Linked DNA regions of Homo sapiens. The protein of the gene in region 2 interacts with the protein of the main gene of each other region in a pairwise test. Each region holds a gene or a part of one and is shown on either strand. Other genes may lie near its edges.

Region 1 (7,022 bases), on a different chromosome or scaffold from region 2:
CAGAAGAAATGATTAAATTTGTTCCTCCCAGAAGTATATACACAGTTCATTTCCACAGCATTTTCCTATATAGCCAGCAAGTTATTTTCTTCAGTTATTCACACCTTGATCAAACCTGAATTATAAACTTAGCACTTACAAATATGAAAATTCATTCACAAGGAAAAACAGTATTTCCATTTCACCAATAAAAATTTTGAAAGTTAACAGTCTATTCTAGGAAACCAAGTTTAGCTGAAAACTTCAGGGATGAAGATCATCTGTTGTAGCAGCATTCAAATATATAAACAGTAAAAATAAGACTTAAAACTGCTGCCTACAGTGTCATGTTTTGGATTTAGTTCATCCAATTGATTTTTAGTACAAAACTAGAAATACCCTCTTCTTCATAACATCTATAGTTATCAATATATTTTCTTCTTTTCAATGTGAAATAATACTTCAAGATGATCTATATACACAATGTTGTCAGTTCAAGCTGTCATATAAATATAAATGCTTTCTTAAAAAAAGTATTTTACAGACAGATAGTGTTATATACATTGTTCAGTTTGATCTGGGGCAAAAGAAAAAAGCTAACACAAGCTTAAGTGTGATATATAAAAAGAATGATACATAAATGACGTTTAAAAACCTGCATAGAAAATGAGCTTCAAATAGTAGTGTGATTTTAATTTTTATCACCTCTGAAACTTCAAGCCATTAAAAAAAAGGCACACTTCTCAACTTTATCCCTCTAAGGGAATGTTCTTAAAGAACCCTTTCCTTGGTTAGAGTTTTAATGTAACACTTAAGAAAACAACAACAACAACAACAAAACAAAAACAGACAATTTGACTTCAAGGTACTTTAAAGTTTGTTGGAACATTTACCCAACTATTTTGTAAATTAAACATCCAGTAATATAATGCTCTGCAAAAGAAATAAATTTATATGTACAAGATACTTCATTTACAATGTTGGATTAAATACTTTCCTGGGATAGTTTAGCACACATTTTAACATAAAATAATTTTGCTTTTGGCCAGTTTAAATAAAAATAAAATGTAACTGATAAAAAGTTATTGTTATGTAAATAATAAGCACTGAGGATTAAGCTGAAAAATTAGTAACACAGCTGAACATATTCTGGTTTAGCAGAATGATACGTGAAGATCTCAACATGAAGCTTTTACACTAACTATCCAGTCAAACTTTCTGCCTTGTAAAACATTTGTAAATGCAATATAACTTTTTGAAGGAGGAAACTCTGAAAGAAAACAACTTGCTGGTTGAATACCACAAAAAACAACTAAAAAACTTCACTTTTTTTCTATAATGTTTGTTTACTCAGTCTCTTTTTATATAAAAATAAGTGTTACGTTCCCATCAGAACATTAGACAATTACATCTGTGCTTTAAAAAAAAAGTTGGTCACTCAAGGCTATTAGAGTATTTTTAAGGATTTTAGATTACCAGAATGTACAGATATAACTCAATATAAATTGTAGCCAAAGAGAAATAAGGATGAAAATATCAAATCATTCGCATGGAATAAAAACATTATTAACTAGATGAGTTAAATATTCAAAATATATGGAATGTGACAGTAGATATATATATATATATATCTACTTCAGAACTAGGAAGGGGAAGAAAAGTTTAATATGTAATAATTCGTACCTTACATTTAGTTAAATATAAACATTTGTTATTTATACATAAAACTGCTTTCAAAAAACAACTAATAAATGATTTAGTTGCACTTGTTTTACTTCTTGTAATTCCCAAGTGTTAACTTTTCTTAGATTGAAATCAACTGTCCCCTAGTGCACTTTTATTTTTAGTTCGTGTCCTAATAAATTCAAACCTTTAAAAGTCCCATCACCTAATGCATAAATATACAAAAATGCCAAAAATTAATCCCTTTTAGTTGGATCATATTTTATGCTGACTTTTTATAGCCAAATAACCAGAAATGGTTTCCTTCTGCAAATACTCTACAACCTGTAACAAAACATGCCATGCACTCAAGGGAAAAGTTAGGCATGGCGTGAAACGCCAAGAACTGATGAGTTCTGCTTCCTCCATGTGTGGGCTCAATGATACCAGGCAAGATTCCATATTGCTTGCCAAAAGCTTCCACAAATCCAAGTTAGCTAATTCCTGGAAACAAAGATTTTAAGCTCATTTTGGCACTGGACCATTTCATCCAGCAGCTTTATGTTTCCCACCACAGCAACCACATGCCTCACCACAGCGATGGCACATTCTCAAAGGGACGTAGCAGCACATACATGGTACAATGAAAGACAAAGCTACCAGGGCTAACCATCGCAAGCAGAACTTGTCGTCGCTAGTGTCACACGAACAGGGATCAGAAAAATCTCCCTCTGAGTCTGACATACAATGATACAACATGCTCTCTGCACAGAGCATGCAACTAACTTGATATATGCATCTTTTAATAGGGTCTGGAGCATCCTGACATTTTCCCCTAACATTTTCTTCATGATTAAACCTTTCCTGGCAGTATACGCAGCGAGAACGTTCACCATCCTCTTTTCTTCGTTTTGACTTCTTAATTTTTAATGAGGAAGGCTGCGTCTTAAATACCACAGAGTCTTTGGGTGAACTTAACTTAGTCTCATCCCCACAAGAGTACAGATAGTCTGATTTTTTACTGTCTGGTTTAGAAAACTGAATACTGGAATCAGCATCATCTCTTTCCAAGTCATTTTTCCACATGTCAGGATGTCTGTAGTCTGCATAGCGACGTATTAAGATATCTCGAGGGTTTATTCTGACAATCTCATCCTCATCTTGAAAGCTGACATGTCTGATTGATTTCAAAGGGACCTAAAAAAGAAACAGATAAAAACTGCAATGAGGGCTATGATGGTTAATTTTACGTGTCACCTTGGTGGGGCCAGTGTCCAGATATTTGTTGAAATATTATTCTGGACATTTCTATGATATGTTTTTGGGATGAGATCAACATTTCAGTTGGTGGACTATGAGGAAAGCACAGTACCTTCTGTGGTATAGGCGGACCTCATAAAATCAGTTGAAGGCTTTACTAGAACTAAGACTGAGCTCCCCCTGAGCAAGAAGAAATTCTGCCAGCAGGGTGCCTTTGGACTCAGACTACAACTATTTCTTGGGTCTCCAGACAGCCTACCCTGTTTTGGATCTGTACCTCTACTATTGCATGAGCCACTTACCCACACTTGATTGAAAGACGTTATTTAGATGAGATTTGGGACTTAAGAGTTGATGCTGGAATGGGTTATGTCTTTGGGGCTGTTAGGATAAGGATGAATGTATTTTGCAAGTGAGAAGGGCATGATTTTGGGAACAAAGGACAAAATGTTATGGTCTGACTTATGTCCTCTTCAAATTCATATGCTGAAGCCCTAACCTCCAGTAATGCGACTGTATTTGGATATAGAGCCTTTTAAGAGGTGACTAAGTTAAAATGTGGCCCTTAAGAGAGACTTTAATCCAATCTGACTGTTTTCTTTATGAGGAAATTTGGACACACAGAGAAAGACACCAGGGATGTACGGGCAGAGGAAAGAGCATGTGAGGGCAAAGTGAGGAAAGACCATGTGAGGGCAGCTACCTGCAAGCCAAGAAGAAAGGCCTCAGAAGAAACCAAACCTACCAACAACCTTGATCTTGAACTTCTAAGAATTGTGAGAAAATAAATTTCTGTTGTTGAAGCTACCCAGTCTGTAATATTTTGTTGTGGGAGTCCTAGCAAATTAATACAAAGACACACATGTGTGTAGCTTGGGTACACAAAAAGTCTCTGAACAATGACGTAAAATACCCCTACTTCCACAACCCTTCTGGGAAGGTTGGTTCTTTGAGGCCAAAGAACAAAATTAAGTCTTTTGACCCCTTACATCATCCATAAATGCAGGCTTCTAAGTAGACAAATTTGTATCTTTAGCTCCAGTCCCTGGACACAGTGACTAGTCTACTACAAGTAAGCATCTGACTCAGTTTGGGGCAAACTTCTATTTCCTAGATACATGGAATTAGGGCTAAGAAAATTCTAGGTCTGAGCTAAAGGTGGGGTGACAGATACAGTTTATTTAATTAACAATATATAATTCCTTTTGGTCCTATCTAATAAATGCAGCTCTGGCAATCTTTTAGACTCAAATGAGAAGTTTGCAGAGTTTTTAACTAACAGCGTTTAAGCACATAGGCAGCAAATTTATACAATGAAAAATTTTCTAGTACAATTCAACTATATGGAGAATTAGAAAGACTGGAAAACTTTACCTATCTATTAATTAGTTAAATTCCATATCACAAGATAAACTAACATTACTTACCCTATTTTGGGACTTTAGGCTTCCACATTCCTTGGATATTTGCCGCTGTACGTATTCCATACTTCTGCTCTGAATGTCCAAGCCTGGCTGACCAAATGTTATCTAAAATACAAACAATTTCTACTTAAATGACACAAGAATTTTACTTTTAATGAAACTGTACAGTGTATGTTCCAAAACCTCATAATTTATTAGCAGTAAAGTTTTTCAAAAACGGTTTTGAGAATAAAAATAGAATCATTTCCCCCCACCTAAAACACAAACAAAAACCATAGGTCTTTTCTTACATATTTAAACTTTAACAAGTAATGAATACATAGTCAAAAAAGTACAAACAACCCAAATATTCATCAACTAATGAACGGATAAACAAAATGTAGTAAATCCATAGAGTGGAATATTATTCAACCACAAAGAGAAATAAAGTAGTTACACATGTCACAATAATGGTTGCCAGGGGCTGGGAATAGGGAAGGAGGGGCAATGACTGATAATCAGTGTGGGTTTTTTGGGAAGTGATATGGAATTTGATACTGCTGATGGCTGCACAATCTTGTGAATATAATAAAAACCACCAAATTACATACTTTTTTAAAGGATGATTTTGTGGTAGGTGAATTATATAGCAATAAAAAAATAGGAATCTTTAGTGTCCTGATACATTTACAAGTGTTTCGAATTGCAAAGCCCATTTCAGACCTAAATTATAGCTAGAATATATCAATGTTTAATTTTTAAAATTTTATGGTGAAAAATTCTAATATACATAAAAGGAGAGAATAATGTTATGAATCACCATGGGTCTATTATCTAGCTTCACTTATCATCAACATTTTGGCAATCTTGTTTACTTCTTATTTTTCCAGATAATTTTGAGCCAACTCCTACTGTTACATACTTAATAAACACTATAACCCTGAAAATAAATAGTAATACATGCAGATAGCAAAATTTTCAAATAGTATAAAAGCACATGAAGTAAAACTCTTCCTTCCATCTTAGACCTTTCAGACCCAGTTTTAAAAGTTAACTATCATAAAAAAAATTTTTTAGTGCATTCCTCCAAAAATTTTTACACACACAGACACACACACACACACACACACAGATCTTTAAAATAGGACCCTTTGTACTGTGCCCTTGGTCTCTGCATTTAATGATACAATATGGAGGCCATTCTATGTTTATAAGTAGAATCTGTAAGAATTTAGAAATTAACAAGAGGAAATAACTATGGATTAAATGGTCTGGGAAGGCATGAAAGGAAATGCGACTTGAAGTAAACACAGAATAAGCTAGATATTTGGTCAAGTGAAAAAAAGAAAAACAGAAGAACATTACACAAAAGGAAGCAGAGAGAACAATTTTTTTTCCTGATAGAACACAATGACCTCAACTAGTATATTAAATATACATTTCTAAGAACTATTCTAAAGAGTAAAAATGTCAATTTTCTCACCACTGTCTCAGAAAAAAGTCACACACACCACTTAAACACATACACACTTTGAAAACTACCTGAGTCAACAGGGTCTATGAATATTAGTTCTCTCACACAATCTCTAAGTGAAAAGACAAATAAATGGACAATATTGACCTTTTCACACTTACTAAAAACAGATGTGATAAGATACACCCCAATTAATTTCTGCTTTTTAATACCCTCAAAATTTGGTACTTTTGCTATAATCTTCAGGAAAATTTATCAGCTGAAAAAGTCATAAGAGATGCTTCTTCAAAGCTGGTCACAATTAAAATTTTAAAAGGATTCCATTTATAATAGAACAACAAAAATGGTACAAAGAAATAATCCTATAAAATATGTATTATCTTTTCACAAAGAAAATACAAAGTTTTATGTAAAGATACAGAAGAAGAGCTAAACAGAGGTATATATCATATTCACGAATAAGATGATAAATTATCCCCTAAACTAACACACACATTCAGCGCAATTCAAATATAAACCACAAAAGGATTCTTCATCAGATTTGACAAGCTGATTCTAAATATTTTAAAAGGGCAAACAGCCAAATTGAAAAAAAAAAAAAAAAAAAAAAAAGATCCAAGCGGGAAAACAAAGTTAGGCACTTTCTCTACAAATATTAAGTTATTATAGAGCTACAGCATTTCTACAGTAAAGATGACAATGTGACACTAATTTAGATTAGAGACATCAGAAACAGACTCAAACATATATAGAGAATTGATGTGTCAGATATGGTACTGCATATCAGTGCGGGGAAAGGCTCCAATAAACAGTGCGGGGACAATTAGTAACCTATGTGGAAAAAATAAAATTTGGTCCCTACCATAGAAGAGAAATCAAATTAAAGTGGATTAAAGACAAAACTTTAAAACTTTTAGATTAGGAAGAAAATCTTTAAGATGAGGATAGGGAAGAGTCTGTAAAAATAATGAGAAATGATAAATTCAACTGCATTAAAATTTATAATGTCTGCTCACCAAAACACCACAAAGAGTGAAAAATAATCACCAACTAGGAGATACTAGCCACAAATAAAACTCAGAAAGATCTGAATCCAGAATATACAGGGAAGTAACACAGAACATTTGATTACCTAGTAACAAGGCCATATGAAAGCATGCAGTTAAAATCCATTTGTAAAGGAACAATCACAGTTATTTCCGAAGTCTTTCAAATACTCAATACATATCCCCTGTAGGTGGTAC
Region 2 (7,099 bases):
TAATTAAAAAAATTTTTTAAAAGCTCTGTTTTATTTTGTTTTATTTAGTAAGTGTGTGTGTGTGTGTATATATATATATATATATATATATATATATATATATTTTTTTTTTTTTTTTTTTTTTTTTTTTGAGACAGAGTCTCACTCTGTCGCCCAGGCTGGAGTACAGTGGTGCGATCTCAGCTCACTGCAAGCTCCACCTCCTGGGTTCTCGCCATTCTGCTGCCTCAGCCTCCTGAGTAGCTGGGACTACAGGCGCCCACCACCATGCCCAGCTAATTTTTTTTATGTTTTATTTTTTAGTAGAGATGGGGTTTCACCATGTTAGCCAGGATGGTCTTGATCTCCTGACCTCGTGATCCGCCCGCCTCGGCCTCCCAAAGTGCTGGGATTACAGGCGTGAGCCACCGCGCCCGGCCGAGAATATTCTTTCTTCATACATCCAGACTTATTTCTTAAAATGTTTACTATAAAAGTTTTCACACACACACAAAAGTAGACAGAATGGTGGAACGAACTGTTTTTCTTTGCTGCAGTAGATTTAAAAGCAAATGCCCAGTCACTACAGATATCAATATGCATCACTGGAAAACAACTGACAGCATTTTAAAAACATAATTACTGGTGGAACTAGAGAGGATGTTAAGCTTAACTTAGAGAATGTAAATAACGGTCAGGGATGAATGGGTATTTTTCCACTTAGATATGTTAGTGGTCAAGTTCCTCAGGACAATGTTATGTTTTTTTCCATGCCGTGGTGGGGTGAATGCACAGAGACTTTGTAAGATTTCCTGGCATTAAGATGATCTAAGGGCCGGGTGTGGTGGCTCACACCTATAATCCCAGCACTTTGGGAGGCTGAGGGGGGTGGATCAGAAGGTCAGGAGATTGAGACCATCCTGGCTAACACGGTGAAACTCCGTCTCTACTAAAAATACAAAAAAATTAGCCGGGCATGGTGGCATGTGCCTGTAGTCCCAGCCACTTGGGAAGCCGAGGCAGGATAATTGCTTGAACCTGGGTGGTGGAGGTTGCAGTGAGCCGAGGTTGCACCATTGCACTCCAGGCTGGGTGACAGAACGAGACTCCGTCTCGGAAAAAAAAAAAAAAAAAAAAAAAAGATGATCTATGGAGGAGAATGCCCATCTGAGTGGTAGAAGAGCCCCTGAGGCTAGGTGAGGGTGGACTCAATTAAATCCAGTAATATTTCCATGTCACTTGGGAGTTCCTGGTTGCAAGCCACAGAAATGGCTCTGAGTGATGGGCAAGACCAAAGGGGTCAAAATTTCACCCGGAGTGGCTGGTTAGCAAGAGTTCTCAATTCTTTTCTTCTCCTTCTTCTCCTCCTCCTTCTTCATACCTTCACTTGCCTTTATTATTTTTTCTTCTTTTTGAAGGCTGAGCACGGTGGCTCCTGCTTGTAATCCCGATGCTTTGGGAGGCCCAGGCAGGAGGGTCGCTTGAGCTCAGGAGTTTGAGACCGCCTGGGCCACATGGCAAAACCCCATCCGTATAAAAAATACAAAATTAGCCGGGCGTCATGGTGTGCACCTGTAATGCCAGCTACTTGGGAGGCTGAGGTGGGAGGATTGCTTGAGCCTTGGAGGTAGAGGGTGCAATGAGCTGTGATCATGCCACTGCACAGTCTGAATGACAGAGGGAGACCCTGTCTCAAAAAACTAAAAATAAATAAAGAAATAAACTGTTAGCATGTTGCCAGCTTTTGAAAGTCATTGTGCTAGCCATGTAGTGTTATCTTACTGTGGTTTCAATTTGCATTTCCCTAATGATTATGATTGAGAGTTTTTAATGTCACTCTGGCCTGGAATGCGGTTGAGTGATTTGTAGAATAGACTGGATTTTTTTTAATGCCAAATAAAGGAACTATTCATTCATTATCTTGGAATGATTAGAAAAGCCATGAAACCTGCCAAGGATTTTGCCCAGGGCGGGGAAAACCCACCTCCGGAGAAAGGCTAGAGCTACCCTATCATTGCCCTGTGGAGTTTGTTTGTTCCGTGAAATGGCGACACCCTTCGCACTCCTCTTTCCCTCCACACCCGCTCCACCCTGCCACACTTTTGCTCCCAGATGGCGTGCCCCTCATTTTTCACCTGTAGAATTCCTCTTTAAGTGAATGTCACATCCTTTTGAAGCATCTAGGGGCCAGGCATGGTGGCTTACATCTGTAATCCCAGCACTTCGGGAGGCTGAGGTGGGAGGATCCCTTGAGGCCAGGAGTTGGGGATTAGCTTGGGCAATGTAGCAAGATCCTGTCTATACAAAAAATGAAAAAAAAAATTAGCTGGGCATGGTGGTGTGCACCTGTAGTCCTAACTACTCAGCAGGCTGAGGCAGGAGGATTGCTTGAGTCCCAGCATTCGAGGCTGCAATGAGCTATGATTGCACCACTGCACTCCAGCATGGGCAACAGAGTGAAACCTCGTCTGCAAAATGCATGCATGCATGCATGAATGAATGAATGAATAAATAAATAAATAATAGGGCTGGGCATGGTGGCTCACACCTGTAATCCCAGCACTTTGGGAGGCTGAGGCAGGCGGATCATTTGAGGTCAGGAGTTCAAGACCAGCCTGGACAACATGGTGAAACTCTATCTCTACTAAAAACAAAAAAAAATTAGCTGGGGGTGGTGGCGGGCCCCTGTAGACCCAGCTACTCGGGCGGCTGAGGCAAGAGAATTGCTTGAACCCAGGAGGTGGAGTTTGCAGTGAGCTGAGATTGTGCCACTGCACTCCAGCCTGGGTGGGCGACAGAGCGAAACTCCATCTCAAAAAATAAAAAATAAAAAAGCATCCAAGATTTCCAGAAGCTTCCAGACATAGCTTGCAAAATGATGTTGTGGAAAAAGCGCAGCCTCATTTGGATGAGCTCCTTACTACCTGTGTGGCTTTGGGCAAGTAATTGCTTTAAGCCTCATTTTCCCCAAGTGTAAAATGGGGATAAAATAATACCTCAGAGGTAGCTATTAGAGATATCGTCATTGTCGTCTTGTTTTGATTCCCCCCCCCCCCCCGAGATGGAGTCTTGCTCTGTCGCCCAGGCTGGAGTGCAGTGGCGTGATCTCGGCTCACTGCAACCTTTGCCTCCCAGGTTTAAGCAATTCTGCTACTTCAGCCTCCAGAGTAGCTGGGATTACAGGCGTGCGCCACTAAGCCCAGCTAATTTTTGTATTTTTAGTAGAGACGGGGTTTCACCATGTTGGCCAGGCTGGTCTCGAACTCCTGACCTCGTGATCCGCCTGCCTCGGCCTCCCAAAGTGTTGGGATTACAGGCGTTAGCCACCGCACCCGGCCTTGTTTTGATGATTAATCTGCCTCTATTACAGGCTTATTTGGCTGTACCCTGGCCGCTTCTTTCCTTATCCCTCTCCCTAGCTGCTCGCCATAAAGAGCAGGCTGTACTACTTATGTCCGCTGTGTCCGTCCATGACACAGAGTTGGCAAATACCAGACCCTCAGCACATTTGTTGAAATGGATGAATCTCAAAGGATTCTCTGGGAATCTGGTGGCTAGAGAGGGGTCGGGACCGCGAGGGACTCTCGCGCTCAGCAAGGCGAGGAGCTGCTTTCCTGGAGTATGGAAACTGAGTCAGCGCCTCCCTCCCTCATAACCAAGGGCCTGCGGGACTGTCTGAACACGTGGGTTTGACAGGTCAGAAAAAGGGAGAACCAAGAGAGTGGATGCTCAGAAAACATGAATGGGAAAGACAGACTGAGAAGGAGGAAAGTGGGATGGAGAGGGCCAGCTGAGACGTGGGCCAGGAGCCGGAGCGGAGATGAAGGGTGAGGACCGGGGCGGGGGACGAGCTGCGAGGAGGGTTTTGGGCCCTGGGGACTGCGTGGTAGCAGCGGAGGCGGGTACAATGCTCCGACGCAGAAGGAAGAGCGTCGAGGCTCCGGGTGGGACCTGAGAAGGCACCCGGCGTGCGGCGGCGCTGGGTTGGAACCGCCGACTCCGCGGGTCTTCGGCGGCGGGCGCTGCAGGTGCAGGAGGCGGAGCCACGCGGGGGCGGGGCCTGTCGGGGCGGGGCCGACGAGGGCCGGGGGCGGGGCGCGCCGCTTGTCTCCTGCGAGAGCCGCGGGGGCCGCGGAGCTGGAGCCGGAGCTGAAGCCGGAGCCGGGTTGGAGTCTGGGCGGGGGCCGGGCCGGAGCGGGCTCCAGAGACATGGGGTCGACCGACTCCAAGCTGAACTTCCGGAAGGCGGTGATCCAGCTCACCACCAAGACGCAGGTGCGCCACGGGGGCCCCGGCGTCCCCATCCACCTGCCGGGCTGGGGGCTGGGCAGGGCCGGGGGTACGCGAACTTGGCTCGTCGGGAGATGGGGGGACGGGCGGGCCCCGAGCGTAACGCCAAGGCCAGCGCCGGAACGGGACCCCGCGGCCTGTACCTGGAAGCTCCATCCCCTGGCCCTAGTCCCCCACCCTCAGCCTCCTCTCCTGGGAACACCCCTCTCCCCGAAGCCGCTGCTGCCACCTTAGGCTGACGTGTGCCTACTCCCCGAGCCGGCGACACAGCTGTCCGCCCCCTGTCCCGCCCCGCGGCGTCCCCAGCTTCGCATCTCCAGCCTCCCGCCGCCCCCACCCACCCATCCACCGTCCGCTCCCCTCCCTGCCCCTCATTGCCCGCGGGTCCCGGACGCACAGTCCCTGTTGACTCAATGCAAACAAAGCCTGGCTGGCGTCCGCCCGGGTCGGAGAAACAGCTGGTGTGCGCGGCAGCGGCCTCGCTGGGCCCTGGTCGATGCCCGTGGGCAGGGAAGGCCCAGGTCTTCCTGGGAACACGCAAAGAGTGGCGGGCAGCGAGGCAGCCTGGTGGGGGGCCCTGTCCCCAGGCCTACTGAGCACAGCCTCCCAGCTGGGGACCTCTCCAGGGGCCTTCCCCGAGGCCCTGCAAGGGAAAGGCTGTTAGCCTGTGTGCTCTGTTCTCTGGCTCAGGGATGGGGACCCGCAGGATGGCCCTCAGTCAGCTGGTGAGGGGCCTAAGGACCCTCCAGCCTAGTCCATGCTCATAACTCTCCTGTGAGTCCACAAGTGGCCCAATAGCCACCTCCTTATACCACCTGGCCCCAGCAAGACTGCTTCTCTGCCCACCCCTTCTCTCCTGGCTTTTTGAATCAGGCCACCGTGGCCACAGAGATGCTCGGCCCTGACTCCCCATGTCCCCCATTTTCAGGGGACACAGGACCTGCTGCCATCTGGGATCTTCCTCTTTCCTGGCCCCCCCACCTCCTGCTCTCCAGGGCTCTCTCTTGCTGCTGGAGGTTAGAGTGGGATGGAGGAAGCCAGCTCCCACAGCCAGCTGGTCACAGCTCCAGGGGCCAGACCTTGCTCCCTCACCCCTTTCCCCACCCTGGAAGGGTCAAATGTGCAGCAAATGCCCAGGGCCTCTGGAGAGTCCAACCCCGGCTGAAAGGCTCTTGATAGAAACCAGACCGCACTTCTCTCCATTCCCTACGGCTCCTGGGTCGTTCTGGAGCTTGGCTTTTTTAGGATGGGGTTTTCGTTCTGTGGGTGGCAGGGAAGGTGGCAAGTGGGCTAGCCCCTCAGTGTAGGGCTGCAGGGAGAGGAGTGGGGAGGCAGGGAGGAAGGGAGGCTCCCATGTTTACCTGCCTGGGGAAGAAACTCCTTGTTGGAGGATTGCACTGTGGGCTCGGCAGCTGGGGTCCTTTGCCAGGCCAGTGGGGCCAGCTCAGCAGAGTACCAAAGGCTCTGGAGTGGCCTAGATTCCTACCTGCTCAGGCCTTTTCCCCAAAATACTGTGTCCCTCTGTCTTTCCCTGGCTACAGCCCTATGATGGGCCACTTGAGATGGTGCTGTTCTGTTTCCCAGCTGAGTAGGCTTGGAATAGAACCTGGATAGGCTGGAGATCAGACCAGCCTTCTGGAGAGCACTGGGTCCTGTAGGCGGACGGGGGCCTGGGCTGCCCGGGGGGAGAGGCCTTCAGAGGCTGAAGCCTTGGACTCTGTGTAAGTGACCTGACTTGGGTAGCTTGGGTGTGAGGATCAGAACCCAGATGATCATCACTGACCTTACCACTTGGAGTCCCCAAGGAGATTCAGGCCAGTTGTCCATAGGATGATATGTGGTTCCAGGCTCTTACAGGGTGTGGCTTGGGCAGTAGACAGGCAGAACTAGCCCCTTTTCCTGTGGCCTGGGCCTGTATCCCTGCTGCTCCACCTTCCTCGCCTTCCTGCCCTGCATCCTGTTTTCTTCCTGCCCCATGGTCCAGTCCTGGGTCAGGCCTGACCCTGGTCCTAAGAGCCAGCCGCTTTGGCTGTGTTTCCTGGTGCTTCCTCATAGTAGGTGGGGCTCTGGAGGGAGACAGTCCCAGACCTGGAACCCTCTCCCAGATCCTGCCTGTTTGGAATTCTCTGCTGCAGGCCAGATGAACCTGGCGGGTGCATATTTACATGTGTATACATGTATGTGCATGGGAATGCATGGTGACACAGTCCTCTAGAGCAGGCTTAGCAGGCTTGAGGACTAGGGGACCTTCCCCCTGCACACCCTGAGAGTCAAAAGATACAACTGCTCCCCCAGGTCTGAGTGGGGGTCTAGTCCGAGCAGGGGCCTGGAAAAGCTGGGTTAAGAATATCTGATTTTGGGCCGGGTGTGGTGGCTCATGCCTGTAATCCCAGCACTTTGGGAGGCTGAGGTGGGAGGATCACCTGAGGTCAGGAGTTCGAGACCAGCCTGAGCGACATGGAGAAACCTCGTCTCTACTAAAAATACAAAAATTAGCCAGGCGTGGTGGAACATGCCTGTATTCCCAGCTACTCGGGAGGCTGAGGCAGTAGAATCGCTTGACCCCAGGATGCAGAGGTTGCGGTGAGCTGAGATCATGCTTCTAGCTTGGGCAACAAGAGCGAAACTCTGCCTCAAAAAAAAAAAAAAAAAAGAAAAAAGAAAAATCTGATTTTGGCCAGGCGTGGTGGCTCATGGCTGTAATCCCAGCACTTTGGGAGGTGGAGGCAGGAGGATCGCTTGAGCCCAGGAGTTTGAGACCAGCCTGGGCAACACAGCAAGACCCTATCTCTAAAAAATAAAAAAAATTAGCTGGGCTGGGTGGGGTGCG
Region 3 (7,633 bases), on a different chromosome or scaffold from region 2:
AGGATGGCATTGTCTCAGGCCAGTGGAGAACATGGTGCCTAAGGCTCCAAGGCTGAACTAGTGATAGCAGCTGGAGCTGGGACTTGCAGGGCTTGGAGTAGGAATTCAGCCCCACCCTAAGGCAAAATCACTGGGCTCAAAGCTATCAGAAGTGGAAGCTGGGATGAAGAGAGGCCCTGGAAGGAAAGATAGGGCCTAGCCTGGCCAGGGGATTTGGAAGTTAAGCTCTTAGCATTTCCTTGGCACCCTGAGGCCCGTCTCAGCCCCTCCAGGCCCTTCTGGGATCCTCAGCAAGCTGGGGGTGGAGCTGTAGCCTGGGCCTTGTGCCAGTAGAGGGCAGGGCTGGGGCCAGGCAAATGCTGGGGGCCAGTCCCACTCAGGACTGTTCTAGAAGCAAGGGCATGTAGGTGGGGAAAGCAGGGTTGAGAGAGGGCTCCAAAAGTCACTCACAGACTCCTCACTGCTGGGAGTTTTTGCTGCCATCTTACGGGGGACCTTTTCCAGGATGGGCGTCTTGGTGAGTCCTGGTGCAGGGATGCAGAGGTGTGGACCTGGGGACCAAGAAGTGGGAAGCATCAACACAGCAGCCACATAGGCCTGTCACAAACCCTCCACCTCCCGCCAACAGACCCCCACCCCAGCCCCATGAGGAGGCCAGAGCCTGACAGCTGTGTATAGGGGTCTCATTGCAGGCGTGGCCCCAGTCTCTACTTCCACCTGTACGTGCTGACCACAGTGTTCTCTCTGGGCCCCCATATGGGAGAGAGTGGTTCCTAAAGTGAGGGTCTGCTCTCATGAGTCTGTTGTCACCCAAGGCCAGCTGACCACCCTGGGGCAATCCAAATCCACCAGGGGTTGCTGGCAGAGTGCTGCCTTTGTTCCTGCCTGGAACCCAATAGATAAGTGCTTTGCCAATCAAACTCTCTCTTTCCCACTAGCTTCTCAAGGGTAAGACCATACCTACTGTGCTCAGTGCTTCATCTCTGCATTCCGGCCACATCTCTGGTGTGGAGTAGGGTGAATTCCCTCACTCCGTTGGTGGAGGGAAAGGAATGCATGCGTGGGTGAATGGAGGCCTTTAAGGCCCTGTGCTCCAGGATGCATCTGGGCTAATTGGGAGCCTGGCCTGTGGCCAGGGCAGGGAGACTCTGGGCCTGCTGGAGGCGTTGTGACCTAGGCAGTCTCGGGTCTGCAGGCTGCCAGTGTAGATGCCATAGGAGTGCCCAGGGAGGTATGCAGGGAGGCTGGGCAGCCAGGGCCCCTAGGGGCCACCTGCCTTAGTCTGGGGAGAGGCAGATTAATTTTGAAGGTACAGTAGAAGTGAGCCAGGCCAAGAGGGCAAAGACTGTTATTATTAGGCTGTGGGTCACAATTGCTACCCTCTGAGATCCCCCTGAACCTAAGCCTCCACAGGCACATACTCATGTTTTCCACCAGCCCACCCTCTATTCTCTCAAGTCTAAAGCTGAGGTTTAGCTAATTTCCTCACCCCTCTCCCCACCCAACACCACCCCTACCCAGAGGCAAGCACCGCCCATGTATGGGCACCTGGCAGGGTTGTTGCCAGGAACAGAGAGTCCAGAAAGATGGATGAACCAGGCCCAAGGATGGAGGAGCCTGGGGCTGCCTTGCAGTGCTGGGCAGAGAATGTAAAGCCCTTGCTGGCACAGTGCAGGGACACTCTCCACAGGCTTGTTCCCACGCCTCCCAGTGCTGTGGGTTCGTAGGGGCTGCCCCCAACTGCAAAGTGAAAGAGGTGGCGTCCTGGTGAGGATTCACCGGAGCATGGCAGTCTTTTGAGAGGACAGCAAGGACAAGGTCAGGTTGGTAAAGGCCCTACAGACCATGCAGCCAATGCCTCCTTTTGCTCTGGCCCAGAGCCCCCCCCTCCCCCCCATTCGGGAGACACTAGTCAGGCTTCAGGGACCCTGAGCTTGAAGAAGGCAGAGCTGGGTGGGATGGTTTCCTGGTGGTCCCACCTACCAACTCTTCTTCCTCCATCACTCCTGGGCAGATGCCTAGAGGATGTATGTGTATATATGTCTGTTTGTGTTTTGTGCCTCCCACCCATGCTCCTGCCAGCCTGGCTTTCCAAGGGCTGCCTGCTCTGCCCCGAAGGTCCAACCCCAGTCTGGCCGGTCATTCACAGGCTGTCATCGGCTATGTCCTGGCTCAGACTTGCCACCAGCCACTGCTCCTCCTTCCCCACCCCCTGCTCCCGGGAGAAGCGGTTGCCAACCAGCAATTCAGGCGAGTCGGGTCAGACCCAAGGACCCTCCGACTAGACACAGAAAGCGCGGACCTGGTCACTTAGCAGATGCTGGGCCAAGTGAAGTGAGAACATGCGCTTGGAGTCCCGAAGCCCTGATGGTTAAGCCTCCCCAAGCCCAGGCACCGAAGCAACGCAATCCTGCAGCTTCCTAGCTGACCCCCGACGGCCGCTGCTGCGCAGGACTCAGAGGACTCCACGAGTCCTGGGGCCTCTCGGCCCCGGTGCTGTCCCTGGATAGAGCCCCCGACCGCCGCCCTTGCTCCCGGCACCGCGCTCCGCCAGCCCAGCCCAGCCCTTCTTCTCACCTGCTCTCCTCGGCTCTGCTGCCTCGGCCGACGCTGCACCGCACCACTCAGGAGTGTGGGCGGGGGTGTGAGCCGGAAGGGGTGGGGGGCGTGTCGCAGCGCGGGGGTGGGGGCTGCAGCCTGGGTTCCCGGCAGGGCCTCCGACGTCGCCCGGGTCCCCGCGGCCACCCGACTGGAGAAAGCAAGCTGGCCGCACTTCTCTCCTTCCTCTTGTACCTCCTCCCTCCTCTCTCTTCCATTTCCCCCCTCCCCCAAGCCCCCTCTTCTTCGCTGTCCTCAGCCCCATCCCTTCCCCAGCTCCCCGCCCAGGGATCTCAGCTCCCGGCCCCCAGAATCTACCCGGAGCGCTTCCCGGAGGAACTCGGGCAACAAATTTAGGCTCTAGAAGGGGGCACAGAACACTGTCCCGCCCATGCCTCCTGCCCCTAGCTCAGCATTTCCCAGTCACCGCACTTCCCCAACCCCATTATTCCAGCCTTGGGGTGCTGCTGCTGAATCCTGGAGAGGGTTGGGTCTGAGGAAGTCTCTGCTCGCTGCCCTCCTCTCCCCACCATCCAGGCCAGTCTCAAACCCTGCTACACCATCTTTCAAAATAATAATAAGAAACAATAACTGGGATCAATATTCACTGCAGGACTTCCCTTTCTGTTACCATCCCATTCCTGCTGGCACTATGGGGTGGGGAGCAGAGGTGGGGTGCTACAGACTTGGGACAATCCTGATGGCAGACCTGAGGATGCTTAAGGACTGCGGCAAGAGGCAGGCTCTCCTCTCAGACAAAAGCATCCCCCACCCCAGATAGAGACCCCCACACAGAAATAGCACAGACAGACCGACAAAGGCAGACTCCGCCCAGGCACACACAGCCCGACTCGCAGATCGAGGACAGACATGCGCACAACAGCAGAGCAGACCCTCACAGGCGCAGCTAACACACAGGCGACCCTGACCAGCCGCCTCTTCACGCTATGATGGGAAGACTCTGCCTCGATCATCAGACTACGGTCTTCGGGACATGGAGTGTTGCGCGAACGCTGGCTTGAGGCTCTCAGGGCTGGGACTAAGGATGGGAAACTTTCCTGACAGTCCTGGGCCGCTGCTCCCACTCAGGACAGGGTGGCAGTGGGGGTTGGCACCAGATCCCACACTCGCATCTCTCCCTTCAAGACTCAGACCCTCGGGACTGACAGGGATACAGCAAACACCAACCACGGCTCCCCCACTCCTCCTAGGACAAGTTCTCTAATGAACACACACATCACATCATACACACATTTCCAGAGGTCGGACTCTAAAAGATGGGCCGTTTTTCTTCCTCTGCCGGAATGCTCGGCTCCTACTCCTTTCTCAAAGCCTCAACGGGGCGGGATTCTGGTCTGAAGGGAAGCTCAGCCCAGGCACCTCAGAGCTCTGAGGCTGGTGTGGGGCGTGTCCTCAAAGGGCGGGGCCTGGCGTGCCTAGCTGGAGCGGGTCCTCAGGCTCCCCCGGGCGGCATCCCCGGGCTCTGCGCTAGGCCTGGAAAAGAGGGTCTATCCTGGGCTGAGGGGAGCATGGTGCTCCTTGGTGACCGTGGGTGACAGCCTTTGTTGGGTTTGCTTCCTTCCTATCCCCTTTTCCAGGTAGAAAAACAGCTACAGGTGCCTACGTGTTAGTTTGGCTTAGGTCTGGATTGGGACTTGGAGACCCAGTTCACCCTCCCCTCTGCTCTGGCCCTGCGCGCCTCCACGCACCCCCCACCAGTAAAGAGACTCGGCCTCCTGGGACAGACACAGTTTATTGATTTGGGCGGAGGCGCCGCGGTGCAGCGGCCCAAGTTTGGCACTGGGAGCAATGGAAGGAAGGACAGACAGATGCAGGCTCTACACAGGGGAGCCGCAGGTGGGGACTCAGGGTCCTCTTCACCTCCGCAAGGAGCGCGATGGCTTCGCTGGCCTCGGTGCTCCAAGCCCCATTGGACAAGAGAGAAAGGGATATGGAACGGGTCACAGGGAGGGGATTTGGGCAGAAGTCAAGGTTGAGGAGTGGCTGGGGTACTCGCTGGAGGAGGTGGGCCCTGAGCCAGAGCTGGCCAGTGGGCTTGCAGAGCAGCCCCCTTGACCCAAGGCGGTTGGGTGGGCTGGAGGAGGAGTGGGGATGCTAGCTGCGGGTGTAGTAGTAGTTGTAGTCGTCCTCGCACGCATCAAAAGGGCCAGGCGGGCTGCGAGGCTCGCCGTCCTGGCCAGACACAGGACGCTCACGCAGGCGCACCGCATCGTACAGACCTTGCGGTGGCTCATCAAGCAGCACATCGCGCTCGGAACGGGAGCGCGTCAGGAGGCCCACGTTGCGGAGCAGCAGCAAGACGGGAGCATAGAGCAGGTTGGCCAGTCCCATGCCAAGGCTGAGCTGCTCAAAGCCCAGCGAGTGCACAATGTGGCCTGCCACTATGGGCCCGAGCGCGTAGGCCACCGAATAGGAGATGTCGGCGATGGCGTAGACGCTGCCATAGACTGAGACATGGCGCACGTCCACCAGGAAGGCGAGCGTGGGCAGCAGTGCTGTGTCGACTAGGGCTATGCCAAAACAGAGGCCGCATAGTGAGACCACTAGCGGCGCGAAGGAGCGGCAGGCGGGCACGATGCACGAGCTGGCGCCGATCACAGCCAGCCCAAGCGCGCCGTACAGCCACTGCAGGTGTGGGTAGCGCGCCGCCAGGCGCACGGTGAGGTAGACGCCCAGCACATGAGGCACGAAGGCCGGCAGCCAGGCCATGCCCATCTCCCACTCGGAAGCCGCCATCGTATGCTTCATCCACGTGGCAATGGTGGGTTCGAGGAAGGCGAGGGGAATGTTACAGGTGGTGAGCGCGCCGGCCACCACGGCAATGTAGGGGTCTAGCATGAGGCGGTGGATGGGAGTGCCCACTGGCAGGTTGGCCCGAGCCCGTGCAGCCGCCGAGAAGGGTTTGGCCACTGCCAGCAGCAACAGCGCGTCAAAGAGCGACACGGCAGCTAGCACCAAGAAGGGCACGCGCTTGCCGGCGAACTCATAGAGGATGCCCCCGAAGGGCGGGGCCACTAGGCTTCCGAAGCTAATGAAGGCCAGCGCCACGCCCAGTGCACGACTGCGCTCCGGCTCCTCCGGGTACTTATCGGCGATCATGGCTATGCCAGACGTGTCGGCGAAGGCTGAGCCCAGGCCCTGCAGGCTGCGCGCCGCGAACAGCGTGGCGTAGTCCTCGGCGAAGGCGAACAGGACTGTAGAGGCGAACATGACGCCCAGGCCGATCAGCAGCGGCACGTCGTAGCTCATGCGGTCGATGAAGGGCCCGCTCAAGGGGTTCACTAGCAGCTGCAGGATAGCCTTGGAAGCAAACAGCACCCCGATCTTCACGTCTTCGCTCTCCGTAGGGTAGCGGGGCCGAAGGGCTGAGCCCGCTGGCCACGCAGCTGTCGGGGACGCCGAGGTGTTGGCCGTGTAGGCGCTGGCATTGGCCGGAGTGGGCAGCGGCAGGGTGGGCTCCCACACCTCGGGAGTCCGGGTGGGGCCCTCGCCGCCCCCGCGCATGTGGGCGATGTAGTCGGGCACTATGGGCACGATGACCATGTACAGCATGTTGTCCAGTAACAGCGCCACGCACACGATAACAAGCACCAGGCGCCTCTGCCGCCGGGGCTCCTGCAGCGCCGCGCCCACAGCCTCCGACAGCTTGGTGGCCGCCGCCCGGGCCTGGCCCGCAGGTTCCGCGGATTCCATGCCCCCACCCCGATGCTCTTCCGAGGACGCCTCCGCCAGGGCCGAGCGCTGGCGTCCCGCAGTGCAGAGGCGAGGGCACGGGACTTCGGGGAGGCTGTCCTGGCCGAGCAGACTCCCCTGTGCCTCAGGTGGCCGCGGAGCTCATGGCCCAGCGTCCCGGGAAAGGAAAGGACTCCGTCCGGCGAGGCGTTGCAGCTACTCTTAGCCGATCCCGGGACCCGCGGCTGCTGGGCTCAGGGGCGGCCGGGAAGTCGGGCGCGCCGAGGGGCCGGGGCCGGAGACTGGGCGCACTTCGCCCGGGGCGCGCCCAGAGCAGCCCCCGCCGCGCTAAGAGGCCGCCCGCGCTGGCCGAGGGACATGCTGTTGCCGCCCGCCCGCTTGCCCGCCCGTTAGCCCCGCCGCTGCGCTCCCCTCCCCTCGCGTCGGCTCTTGCCTCCTCCGCCGCCTCCTCTTTTTTTTTCCCTTCCACTCGGGGCTGTGACGCGGCGAGTCCCAGCCCCCGAGTGGTGCCCGGGCCACTTACGTCGCTCATGCTAATGCGACGTCGGCGGGGCGGGGGCCGGGGGCGGGGCGTGGCCGGGCAGGGGTCCGCTCTCCAGATGCTCCAGGGCTGGAGGCCCAGGAAGGGCTCTCGGTGTGGAAGTCTTGAACCAGCCCCTGGGATGGGCGTTCCGCGCCGGTAGCTGGCCCTCTGCCCCCCGCCCCCTGCCTGCCCCCCGCCCGCGGTTCTAGGACTCGCGGGGTCAGCGCCCGCTCTTCTCCTCTTGGGGAAGGGGGCGCGGCAGCCGGTTCCTCGAGGCCCCTTGGGAGAGGCGGGAGCCAGAGGCTTGCGATCTCCGCTTCAGCCTGGACCTCGGCGCACAGCGAGCAGGAAGCCCCCGAGGTGAGCCGCCGCTGCGTCCATCTGTTCTCGCAGCTGGATTGTGGAGCCGCGTCCGGAGGAGCGCTGGACACGGACACCCCCAACCCTTTCTCCGACTCCGCCCCCTGGCCCCTTGCACACACACTCCCGCCAGGAGGGGAGGGGAAGGCTCAGCAACTGCCTGGCCTGGCTCTGACCCACCGGCCCCTCCGCAGAATTTCTCGGCCGCGAATCGCGGCCGGGAGCTTGTGGGGACTGAGGGCAGAAGTTGCCGCGCCCCAGTCGGGGTCGCGAATATTAGCCTGGCCGCTGCCGCCCTCCCGCACTGCCTGGCCACATTCCCCTTGCCTGGAATCCCCCTTTCTCCTTTAGCGGTCTGGTCCCCCAGCTCCGCCTCTTCTCTCCCCGCCGCCGCACCCCCTCCCCACTCTAACTCCTCCCAGGCACTCTTCGCACCCG

The links. The genes of interacting proteins can lie anywhere in the genome.
Region 1: the proteins of HID1 (region 2) and SPRED1 interact in binary tests that used the Homo sapiens proteins (3 or more experiments, as listed by UniProt).
Region 3: the proteins of HID1 (region 2) and CHAT interact in binary tests that used the Homo sapiens proteins (3 or more experiments, as listed by UniProt).

What each region holds. Positions count from the first base shown.
Region 1 is NC_000015.10:38,346,830-38,353,851, reverse strand, and holds part of SPRED1 (sprouty-related, EVH1 domain-containing protein 1), read right to left. Parts: intron 4,431-7,022; coding exon 4,329-4,430; intron 2,839-4,328; coding exon 2,188-2,838; 3' UTR 1-2,187. UniProt on the Homo sapiens protein: Tyrosine kinase substrate that inhibits growth-factor-mediated activation of MAP kinase. Negatively regulates hematopoiesis of bone marrow.
Region 2 is NC_000017.11:74,969,746-74,976,844, reverse strand, and holds the start of HID1 (protein HID1), read left to right. Parts: upstream 1-4,085; 5' UTR 4,086-4,188; coding exon 4,189-4,254; intron 4,255-6,052; exon of another isoform or gene 6,053-6,156; intron 6,157-7,099. UniProt on the Homo sapiens protein: May play an important role in the development of cancers in a broad range of tissues.
Region 3 is NC_000010.11:49,609,420-49,617,052, reverse strand, and holds the start of CHAT (choline O-acetyltransferase), read right to left. Parts: upstream 3,017-7,633; 5' UTR 2,864-3,016; coding exon 2,578-2,863; intron 1,031-2,577; exon of another isoform or gene 1,001-1,030; coding exon of another isoform or gene 961-1,000; intron 552-960; coding exon 451-551; intron 1-450. Other genes in the region: SLC18A3 (vesicular acetylcholine transporter), read right to left, coding at 4,714-6,312. UniProt on the Homo sapiens protein: Catalyzes the reversible synthesis of acetylcholine (ACh) from acetyl CoA and choline at cholinergic synapses.